Regions from separate parts of the Homo sapiens genome. Here region 1 is linked to region 2. Evidence: fine-mapped expression QTL. A gene starts in region 2. The other region holds a variant in brackets. All regions are shown on one strand. Distances are from middle to middle. Region 1 overlaps ADD2 (adducin 2). Region 2 holds the start of ADD2 (adducin 2).

The links.
Region 1: its variant is fine-mapped to the expression of ADD2 in whole blood (TOPMed, PIP 0.98).

What each region holds. Positions count from the first base shown.
Region 1 is chr2:70,659,464-70,664,835 of GRCh38, forward strand. ADD2 (adducin 2) reads right to left here. Exons shown (of 16, transcript NM_001617.4): 16 at 1-4,272. The coding sequence ends at 3,962. Among named protein-coding and RNA genes, the nearest start is that of ADD2, 110 kb to the right of the region's middle. The variant A/G (reference allele first, on the strand shown) is at 2,903.
Region 2 is chr2:70,766,039-70,771,410 of GRCh38, forward strand. It overlaps ADD2 (adducin 2), which reads right to left and starts at 2,162. Exons shown (of 16, transcript NM_001617.4): 1 at 1,848-2,162. RefSeq lists enhancers at 1,297-1,862, 1,863-2,428, 2,838-3,402.

The sequences.
Region 1 (5,372 bases), 110 kb before region 2:
TCTACATGGATCAGTGGCAGAGGGCAGTGCTTTACAGTGGGGTTCTTACTGTAAGAACTTACTGCTCTTCATCCAATTTCCCCCAAGTCCTTTAAAAAGAACTTATCTGTTCACAGAGGAAGAACCCTGTTTTAGTTATAGGAGAGTGGAGGGGGTCAACTGGCCAAAGTAGGACAGTTACTTGGGTTGCATGCAGGCCAGGAGGCTCTTAGGGAGTCCAGATCTGGGCTAGAAGGTGTCTCTTTCTGCAGTTTGGGAGGAAGGTCACATGGTATGGACGGTTCTCTCACACCACTGTTGGGTGCAGCCAACACTACGCAAGGAGCCGTTGGAGCCAAGCCTGTCTCTGCGAAACCACTAATCCTTCTTGTCCTCTCTCCTCCTGCCTGCCTTGCGATGGAAATAAGCTCAGAAACCTCTCCACTTCCCAGCTCAGCCAGCCACAGAGCAGCACATTGGTTCAAATGTTACCCTTTTCTCTGGCACATCCAAGCACAGTAGCTCAACCAGACATGAACCTACTGCCCACCAAATCTGAGCTCTTGAATACACATTTTCTCCAGTCAGATATTGGTCAAAGTTTTCAGCCAACTTTTATCCACAGCCAAAGAAAATGGCCTTTCCTTTCTAATAGCCTGTAGATTTGTTTGGACCACATGTCTGTTTCTGTAGCATTTGGTGCATGTCCTCAAGCCTGGAGCTAAATGTGCCACATTCTGTGCAAGGGAAGAAGAAATGGCAGGATGGCTGGACACCTCTCCCAGCAATTCTACACCAAGACAAAATAAAACTGGAAACATTAGCTCTTTGAATGCTCCCCTCTCCTTGTTGAAAATCCCTCTTAAGGTGCTTTATCCAAAGACTTTTATGGAAATAAATTTTGTGTTGGAAACTCACTATCTGCTGTAGAGGAAACATCGTGTAAAGCAGGCCATCAACTATGTTTTAGTATTGACATTTCAAAAAGGCCTCATAGCTCCCATGCCACCATCCCACGCCCATCCAGTCCACAGTCTCCATTCAGCCACCAAAGGGATTTTCCTAAAATGCAATTCTGATCATGACTCTATCCTGATTTAAAGGCTCCAGTGGCTCCAAACCCCTTCCATGACAAGTCTAGCTCCTCCACACTTCCTACCAGTTTCCTTAGGATTCAGCCCTGCCTACCTATGAAGGGACCCCTCAACCCCTGAGCTTCCACATCATGCTCTGGCAATGCCACGTTGCTCAGCGGAACCCATCATGGCATTTCATGCGTCCACACCTTTGCACATTCTTCCCTCATTGTGGCATGCCCTGCCAATCCTTTCATTCTACTGGAAATTTACTCTTTGTTTTAAAACCTTAGCAGCCATTGCTTCTCTCAGGGTTTCTCTGGTCCCCAAGATAGTTAATTGATGCTTTCTTATGCCACCTTGGTACCCTTGCCTGTTTTGCAATTTGTCTATACACCTCCTATGCTCATGAACTTCTTGAGGGCAGGAACTATGCCTATCCTCATGCCTGGCCCTTGACCCAAGCTCAATGCATGTTTTTGGAATGCATGAGGAATGAACCAACTGACAGGTTCATCTATCAATAGAAAGTGGGCCCATGGCATAAATTCCCAGAATAATGCTGCAGCAAGACTCCACCCAATGAGGCCTAAGTGAGGCCTCATTGTCAAGGGAATAGAGTGTGTTGAATGCAGAGGCAATCAACATCACCCCCGAAGTAGAACAACTCGCACACAAAAGGCTGCATCAGAGGTCGTGTTCACCATTCTCACAACATCGTTTGCCACTTATTATTCTAGTCATAATGATGGCTCTCTTTCAACGTCAGCATAATGCCTGGTGCTCAGTGGATCCTTAACAAATACCATGTAAGGATAAATGAATAAGTGTGAAATCTACTTTTTAAAAGAAGGCATCAAGGGATTGGCTTTTAAAGGCATTTCCCATATGACAGATTTTTCTGAGGCATGAGTGGGTTGTCCCTCCTAAAATTTGACCCAATCAGGAAGTAGAACAGAGATGGAGCCTGGGGTAGCAGTTAGGAATCTGCACTAGAGAGACACAGTGTCAGGTTTACCTTGGTCCTAGGTCAGTTTCCTTCCTTCTCAAGAAATAGCCAACTATGGATGGTATTTCCCGCCCCAACCAGAAGGCTCTTGCCTCTCCTTTGTCAGAGGCACACAGTAGCATCACCACAGTCCACATTGACCAGGAACTTCACGTGCAGTGATGAGGATGAGCACAGGGTGTTCCCTACCTTTGCTTCACGTGCTAACATTATGCAATGGAGAACAGTCATAGAGACAAATCCTGGATGAAAACCACCACCCCTGGGGATTAAAGTTGTCTGTTCACCATAGCTGTTAAGAGCAAGGGCTCTGGACTCAGACTGACCTGGATTCAAATCCAGGATCCAGATCTTTCTAGCCAAGTCAGCTGGGACAAGTCAATTATCATTTTAGGGGGTCAATTTCCTCACCCACAAAATGGGAATGATCTTACCCCCCTCAAAGGATTACTGTGAGGGTTAAAGAATGTAATGTATGTGAAGCCTGCACAGTGTCTATAGATAGCAAGTGCTCAAAAGTGGAAAACTATGATTAAGAACTTTCAAAAATATTTTCACGATAGTCAGATCAAAAGGAAAAATATTCTTTCAAGACACGGTGCTTTCAAGAGAATGGATTGTCTAATTTTTAGGAGCCAACAAATGCTCATTAATCAATGCCCCACGGAAGAACATGAGAAGACAGTGTTGGCATTTAAAACAATAACTGTGGCCATTACCAGGCCCCAGGATGGACAGATAGGGACAAGGACAGGGATACCCAGCATTTCTCTGAGAGCTGGTGCAAGAGGATTAATCCTGAAGGGCTCATTTCTGATTCTCCTCTGCTGGACAAAGA[A/G]TGACTGAGTTGGAACCTCAGAGGGTGCAAGTCAAGGTGCCAAGAGTAAGATGCCAGTTTCGGTCTGTAAGCAAGTGTTTCTGGGGGTGAGGGAAGGTCAGGGGAAACCTGACCACTGGACAGGAGTGAGGCAGGTACAGTGCATTGCTCCAGGTGTCATGCAAAGCTAGAAAGTCAGCATTTCCTCTGTTGTTTTGATCCTCCTTATACAACCCAAAGCCAACAGAGGATTTCAACTTCCCCAAATTTCTGCCCTGAGCATTAAACAACTTTTTCCTATGCTAAATTTGGTTTTAGTTTTGAAGTGCCTGAGATGCACAATTCAAAGGGGTCAAGTTCCTGGCCTCTTATGTTGATGAAACCATCCCCAATCCTCAGCTTACATGGCTTGCCCCTATGCCTACCACCTCTTATAGCTCTTCCATCCATCATTCAAGAGGTTCCATGAAGAAAGCTCAGGGTTAATGTTTGGGGTAGTACAAGCTAAGCCATCAGCCCTTGGGAACAAAGATTACTTTCTGTTGGAGGGGTCAATTTGGCTAGTCACTTTGAGCAGCAGGGCAGGGACCCAAAGTGGAAAAGAGAAGAGATTTTTAAATGTAGAGATAGCTCCATCCACAGGAGATTGGATTCCTGGGAAGAAATGGACCTTACTCAGGGGAAGCCTTGACCTCTGATTTAGTCTGAGCCTGTGAGAGCTCACGGCCCATTTCTGGCCTTCTTGCCCTAGGCTCAGATTGGTGGACAGCATCCAAACAAAGGCAGCCCACAACTAGGCAGTGTTGTGTAGTAGAAGGAGCACTGGACTGGAAGTCAGGAGACCTGAATTCGAGTGCAGGCTCTGCCGCTAACTAGCTGTGTGACCTTGGGCAAGTCACCTGATTTCTCTTGGGCAACTGTAAAACGAAGGGTTGGTCGGGTGATCTCTAAGTTCCCCTTCCGAATGTGGTCCAGGGTCCTACTCTATCCCTCCTTAGCCCTGTGCTTGCAGGGACAGAGATGGGAGAAGGGAAGGGGAGGAGAGAGAGGAGGCAGGAGGGAGCCCAAGGGTGTCATGAATCAGGACTCCACTTTCTCCTTCTTTTTGCTCTTTTTCAGGAAGGAGGGGGTTCGGAATTTCTTTTTCTTCTTTGAGGGAGACTTGGAAGGTGAGCCCTCTGGGGACATGGGGCCGCTGGTGACCGACTCGGTTTTGTCCTTAGAGGTATCAACATCCGTGTCAGCACTGGTGGTCATCTGGCTCAGGCCTTTGCTGAGGATTTCCTCTGCCGTCTGCTCCTCCTCCCTCCCGTTGACCACCACCCCTTCCGGCTGGGTTGTTTCGGGCTCTGTGGTGGCGGCTTTGCTTGTTTCTGTCTTCTTAGTACCTTCTAGAAAAAGATCAAAAGATATGACCTGTAAGATTTCATTCAGGTGACAGCTTCCACCTGGGGCTAACAGAACCATTTCTAGGGAATTCTATAAAATCAATCCAGAGCGAGGGGAGGGCCAGCCTGATGTTGAGGGATGGCTACCAGAGACAGATGGAAGGACTGGGTTCTGATCTGCACCTTCCATGTGGCCTGTCCTGGGAACACCCCCTTGCAGGCTGGCAGCTCTGGGCTCTTGTCTATGAATTTAGATGGATATTAATGTCTGAAGTGGCAGGAGGCCCGGCTGGGGTCCAGCTCAGAGTTTTTCTAGGCAAGAAAGAAGAAACAGACACAGAGAAAGGAGAAGGCGTGAGGTGTACAGCTTGGTGGAGACATCTAAGCATTGCTGTAACCAGTTTAGTTTCACCAATAAAAACATGGAAATTACATGTCCTCAAACCCATTTCATTTTCTACACCAGTGAGGAACTCCAAGAAATATGGAGAATATCTTCCCAGTAGGCAGAGGGAGAGTGGAATTCCTTATATAACACAGACCCCATATTTCCAAGACATGTTAGTCAAAAGGGGAAGACCCCTGGTCAGCCCTTTCTAGCAGCCACTGGGGCCCCCAGGTCTTTATTCCACCTGGGAATCTGTCGGGATCGCGGGAATGTTCAAGGCCAGAGTTACTCAGGCCCCAGAAACCAAACCCTCCTGCCACCCTTTCTCCCCCTCCCCACTCTCACTCAACCTTGCTTCCACACAACCTTTCAGATGCCTGGATGGGGTGAGAGTCAGGGAGATTGTAAAACCACAGACTGAAAAGTAGAAAGCAAGGTAAATATTATCTGATGCCTCTCCTCCCCACTGCACAGTTAAGAAGGCTGAAGAACACAGTACCATGGTGGGCAGACCTCGGCTTACCAACTTCCGGTTCAGCTTCTTCTCACGACGGGAACTGAAAGGAGTGTGTGTGGGTGAGCACGTGTGAGTGTGTACAAGTGTGTGTGAGTGTGCAAGTGTGTGTGTGGGTGTGTGAGGGTGTGCAAGTGTGAGTGGGCAGGTTGTGTGTGGTGTAAGTGTGTAAGTTTGAGTATGCAAGTGAGATTGTTTGCC
Region 2 (5,372 bases):
AACACTATACTAATATTTAAAACAAATTCAATCCAAGCCTAGAAACCACAGCATATCATGTCAGGCATTGTTGTACATTGTGTATATGACAAGCATATTTCTAATAAGGCTAGGCAATTTGGTGGACAAGAAAGAACATAGGGCTTACTACAAAATTCTTATGGATTTTGGATCAAAGAATAATTTATCTTTAGTGGTTTTTCAAAATGTGTTGACATCATACCAATAATGAAAACTTTGCTTTTACTTGTGCCCTATGCAGGGAGGAGTAGGGAAGAAAGGCTGGGCAAGATCCTGATCTATAGGAGAAAAGTCTCTACAGAGAAAAGTTTGATCACATTACACAATTAAAGTAGAACCTTATAAAGTAAAAATATTAAATGGTCTAAACCCCCCTTTTAAGTCTCTAACATATATTATTCATATGCTAATGGAGATATTATTTGCAAGTCTGAAACGTCATAGTTCTCTTCTTTGGTCAGATTCATTTAAAACACTTTTACTTCAAATGCTGACTTGCTATTTTTCTCTTAAAACGGAACATAATTTTCTAATGCCATTAATGAGAACACCCCTCACTGCACAAGTTAAACATCTCAGGAATCCCAGCTAGATCCACAAACTAGACATGAAAGCAGTTGCTTGCACCCTCTCCAATCCCTTTGCTTCTGCCAGGATGCCAGACCAACCACTCCTTTTGGGTTACTCGGGAAGCACGAAATGTGCATTTAGGAAACTGAGATTTGATTTCTATTATCGATAAAGCTCATCTGAGTCAGTTGAATCTTAGACGACAAACAGCAAGAGGGAAGAGTGGGTGTAAGGAAACAGATGGGTATTAATCATGTGTCAGAGATAAATGACAGTTTTTTAAAGAATTTGATAGGGTGTGGGCTGGAGCTTGCTTTTTTATTTTCTATTTCTATTTCCTATTTTCTATTTTTAGTTTTGGGCAAGAGATGGAGATTAGGGGTGAGAAAAGGAAGGAAGAGAAAAGGCAAGACAATAGGCCAGACCCGAGAGCCTGATCTGCATCCTAAAGCAGTCTGCCCCTCCCTCCCTTCCCCCCAACACCAGGTAGGCTGTGGTGTGATTTAAAAATAAGCAGACACCGACTCCCGCCTCCGGGACCGGGGATGGCCTCCGCCCCGGCTGCAGAAAGGGAGGGGAGGCAGGGAGAGGAGAGGGAAGATGGAAGAAACAGACTGGCAAGACCCCCTCGGGTACAGTGGGATTTTTCCCTCCAAAGTGGTGGAGCCGCATAAAATCAAAACCCACGAGGCCCGCTCACGTGCCGGTTGCCCCGATCTCAATGTAGGCGGCTGCCGACGCCGCACCTGCTCGGCCGGCCACTGCGGCTGAGCGCCGCGCAGCCAGCGATCGCGAGGCCCCGGGGGACGCGCCCAGCCCCGCCAAGCCCGCCTCGCACCGCTACCCCGGAGGGCGGCGGCCGAGCGGGAAGGAAAGAGAGGGGAGGGGAGGGAGGGGAGGGGAGGAGCGGCCCCGCCCGGCTAGGCGAGGCGAGGCTTGCCGCCCCTCCATTCGGACCCAAAAGAAAGCCCCACCTGTCAGGCGTTACGCTCCGGGCGAGGGTCCCACCATCCCCAAGCAGGGGCCAGTGCTTGCAGCCCCGATTTCCTAAGAGCCTCGGATGCTACATCATCACCAGAAACCTTTAGGCGCAAAACACACCGCTGCCGGCCAGGGCTGCAGCACCGACGCGCTCGGCAACAGACGCGCCCCACCTGGGCCAAGCGGCTCCCGCCCGGCCGAGGGATGCCAGGGTCTCCGCGCCAGGAGACCAGCGACCCCAGGCAGCCCACCAGGCCCGCTCCCCAGACCCTTACCTCCTGCGCGGCATCTTAGCTATCTCCGGTCGGCCACTGCGGGTTGGTTTTGTTATTTTATGGGTTTGGGGGGTGGGGTGCGCTTAAAAAATCCACCCAGCTAATCTGCAGGGCAGCGTTTTCTGCCCATGCTGCAGCCCGCGCTCGTCAGAGCTGCTGGGAGATCCCCCAGCAGTGCAGCGGCTCCGCGGCGGCGGGGATGACTGGCCACCGACGCCGCAGTTCCTTGACAAAAGGCTCGGGTTCCCGCTAGTCCCTCACAGCCCTGCCGTCAGAATTAAAGCCATTTCCCGCACGAGGCTGGGAGGAAATGAGAGCTCTCCTGGCCCTGCGCGCTGACAAAAGGCCGCTGCGCGGTGCCCACAGCGCCCCCTCCAGCAGGCCGCGCCGGCCGCCCGAGGGCCGCGGTGCTGCAGTGCCCCCGCCCGCAGCGCCCCCCACCGCCCCGCAGCGGCCTCGCCCCGCAGCACCCCCACTACCGCCCCGCAGCGCCCCCCTCCTCCCCGCAGCGCCCCCGCCCGCGCCGCCGCAGACCCCCCTAGCCAGGCTTCCAGCCCCCTTCCACCCCCGCCCCGCACCACTCACTACCCGGGATGGCCAGAGCTAAGCAGGGGAGTCTGTTACTAGGGAGAAAATCTGAAACAGAGCTCCCTTGGGGGAATGTATTCTCCCTGGAAGGAAGAAAGCAAAAGTCTTAGACTTGGAATATTTCTTTTCGTCTGGAAAGGACAGCTAGCCTTCGGAAGATAATTCTATTAGTGATTTTAATAGCAATTGTTTGACTGAATTCCAAACCAAAATTCTCCCTGTCCTGATTCTCACTCCTTTTCAACCAGGACAACATTTTTGTTGTGGCCCTGCCCTTGGGGGCTGTGGACCCAACGCTCTCCAACTCTCACTACATTCTCCTCTCACTCCTTTCCTTCCTCAGGTCTCCCGCCCCAGAAGGAACAGGTGTGTAGTGAGTGGGGAACTGGATAGGGAACCAGAATACTTCGGTTGCCGTCTCAGAGCTGCTCTTAACTAGCTGTGAGACCTTAATCAACCCACTTAACCTCTCTGGGCCTCGTTGTCTTCCTCTGTAAAATGACAGTGTACCTAAGGCACCTCCCATTTCCAATACTTTCAAGGCCTGGCCCTCAGAGAGTAGGGGTGTTAAGAGATAGCTCTGGACTTTTCACCCCCATAATCTCCACCAGTCCCCAAAACTCCCCTCAATCAACATCCTCTCCAAGGGCTTTTGAAAATGTGCTTGTGAAAATGTACAGCTTCCAGAAAAGCCTCTGGCCACTGATCTGAAACCTGATCATGGCCCCTCTGCCCTTCCAGGTTCTGGGGCACCACAGCCCTCAGACACCCCCACAAAAGTCACTGGCCCCCACCACAGTGCTGCTGTGGAACCAGAATCTCTGGAGGTAGGCTCAGGATTGGTAATTTTAACAAGCAGCCCTAGTGATTCCTTTGCACACTAACACTTTAGAAACACCACTCTGAGAGCTACTACTGATTTAGAAAAGAAAATGCTAACGACAACCCTAGATGCCAGGATAAACTTGTCTTTCTGCTTCAGCCCCCCTTCCAAGAAACATACATGCATACCTGGTCCCTGCACCCTCCTTCCACACTCAGAGCTTCTCACTCATTCTCATTCAGAATCACCGAGTCCACAAGACTTCTCCCCATTCTCCTGTCAAAACCTGCTAGAAGAATTACAACAGGCTCAGCCACACAAGATGAAACCCCTTCCCCTCCCCACCCCAGGACCTAGGTCTGTCTGGTCAAAGAAGCCAGGACGTGTTATGTTTATTGAGTCATTCCTGGCAGCCATAGCTCTTTTGGTGCTAATGGGTGATGAGATCTGAGAAACAGGGAACCCCTTCTCCAGAGCTCAGAAGTCACAGGTAAGGTGGGCTCTATATCTTAATAGAACCCCCAAAAAGAATGGAGAATTTTTGTTAGAAATAGCAGGTTTCATAAGTCACCCCAGTCATTTCCATCCCCCAAAATTTCTCTTCCTAGTGTGTTATTTTGTTTTCTCACATGAATCCTAGCAAACCCTTGTTGGTTCCTGGCACTGTTCTGAGAGCTTTACATGCATTTTCACATAATCCTTGCAAAAACTCTGTGAGGGTGGTACTATTATCATCCCCATTTTATAGATGAAGAGACTGAGGCACAGGGATGTTAAGTCGCTTGCCCTAGGTCACACAGCTAGTGGGTGGCTGAGCAATGAATCAAACTCAAGTGCTGTGGCTCCAGAGTTTGTGGGCCCTAACCACTACACTGCATGGCCTCCCAGAGGGGACAATAAACTTTTTTTTTTTCTTTTGAGACAGAGTCTCATGCTGCCCCCCAGGCTGGAGTGCAGTGGCATGATCTCAGCTCACTGCAACTTCCTCTCCCCAGGTTTAAGCGATTCTCCTGCCTCAGCCTCCCGAGTAGCCGGGATTACAGGCACGCACCACCACACCCAGCTAATTTTTGTATTTTTAGTAGATATGGGTTTTCACCATGTTGGCCAGGCTGGTCTGGAACTCCTGACCTCAGGTGATCTGCCCGTCTCAGCCTCCCAAAGTGCTGGGATTACAGGCGTGAGCCACCACGCCTGGCCAAAAATAAACTTTTTAAAGCAGAGCTGGTACAAGACACTGAAAGGCTGATAAGACTAATACATTCTCCTTCCCCCCGGCAAAAAAAAAAATGATTCTGCTCCCCTAGTCATCACAGGAGATACATATATATATTTATGTTTATATATGTATATATTATATATATTACATATACACAATATATATTATATATATTACATATATTTTTATATATATATGTCCGGCCTCTCCCAGGGTCTATCTGATACTGCATACTGAGAAGGTGGTGCCATCCTGGGACTTTAGGAATTGTCCAAATGTCAGAGAGGAAATAAGACTTCATTAATTCCCATATTCATAGCCTATATGAAATTTTAATTGAAGTTCCAGAAATTCTCAATTTCAAATTCACTTCAAAATCCAGGAAAAGGAACCACAACTGTAGTTGGCTCCAACTGTCAATGGGAGACCAGGAGACTTCAGAGCTCCCACTGCAACAAGCCCAAGATGCCTGGCCCTTAACTGGGGCCAGAAAAACACAAGAGACCCCCATGTCAGACCGGGGAAAAATCACAGCTGGCTAACCCTCCATGGCCAGATAGTTTAAAATTAGACTCTCTGACTGATTTGCAGTAAAATTTCTCATCTTCCAAGTCTTCTGACAAAAATGTTTCTGGCCAAGAATAACTAGTAGAGAGAGAAGCTGGCAGTGCAACAGTGAGCCCCATCTCCTGGTATCCATTGCCCTGTGTATTACCCTCTCCTTAGGTGCTGGCACGACTGTGGCTCACTTCTAACCGACAGGATAAGGCAAAGATAATGGGATGTTCACTTCCGTGATTACATTACATAAGATTCTTTGTCTTGCTAGCAGACTGTCTCAGTTGGCGTCTTGACCTGCATGCTTTCATTAGTAGCCATGTTTGGAAGATCTACA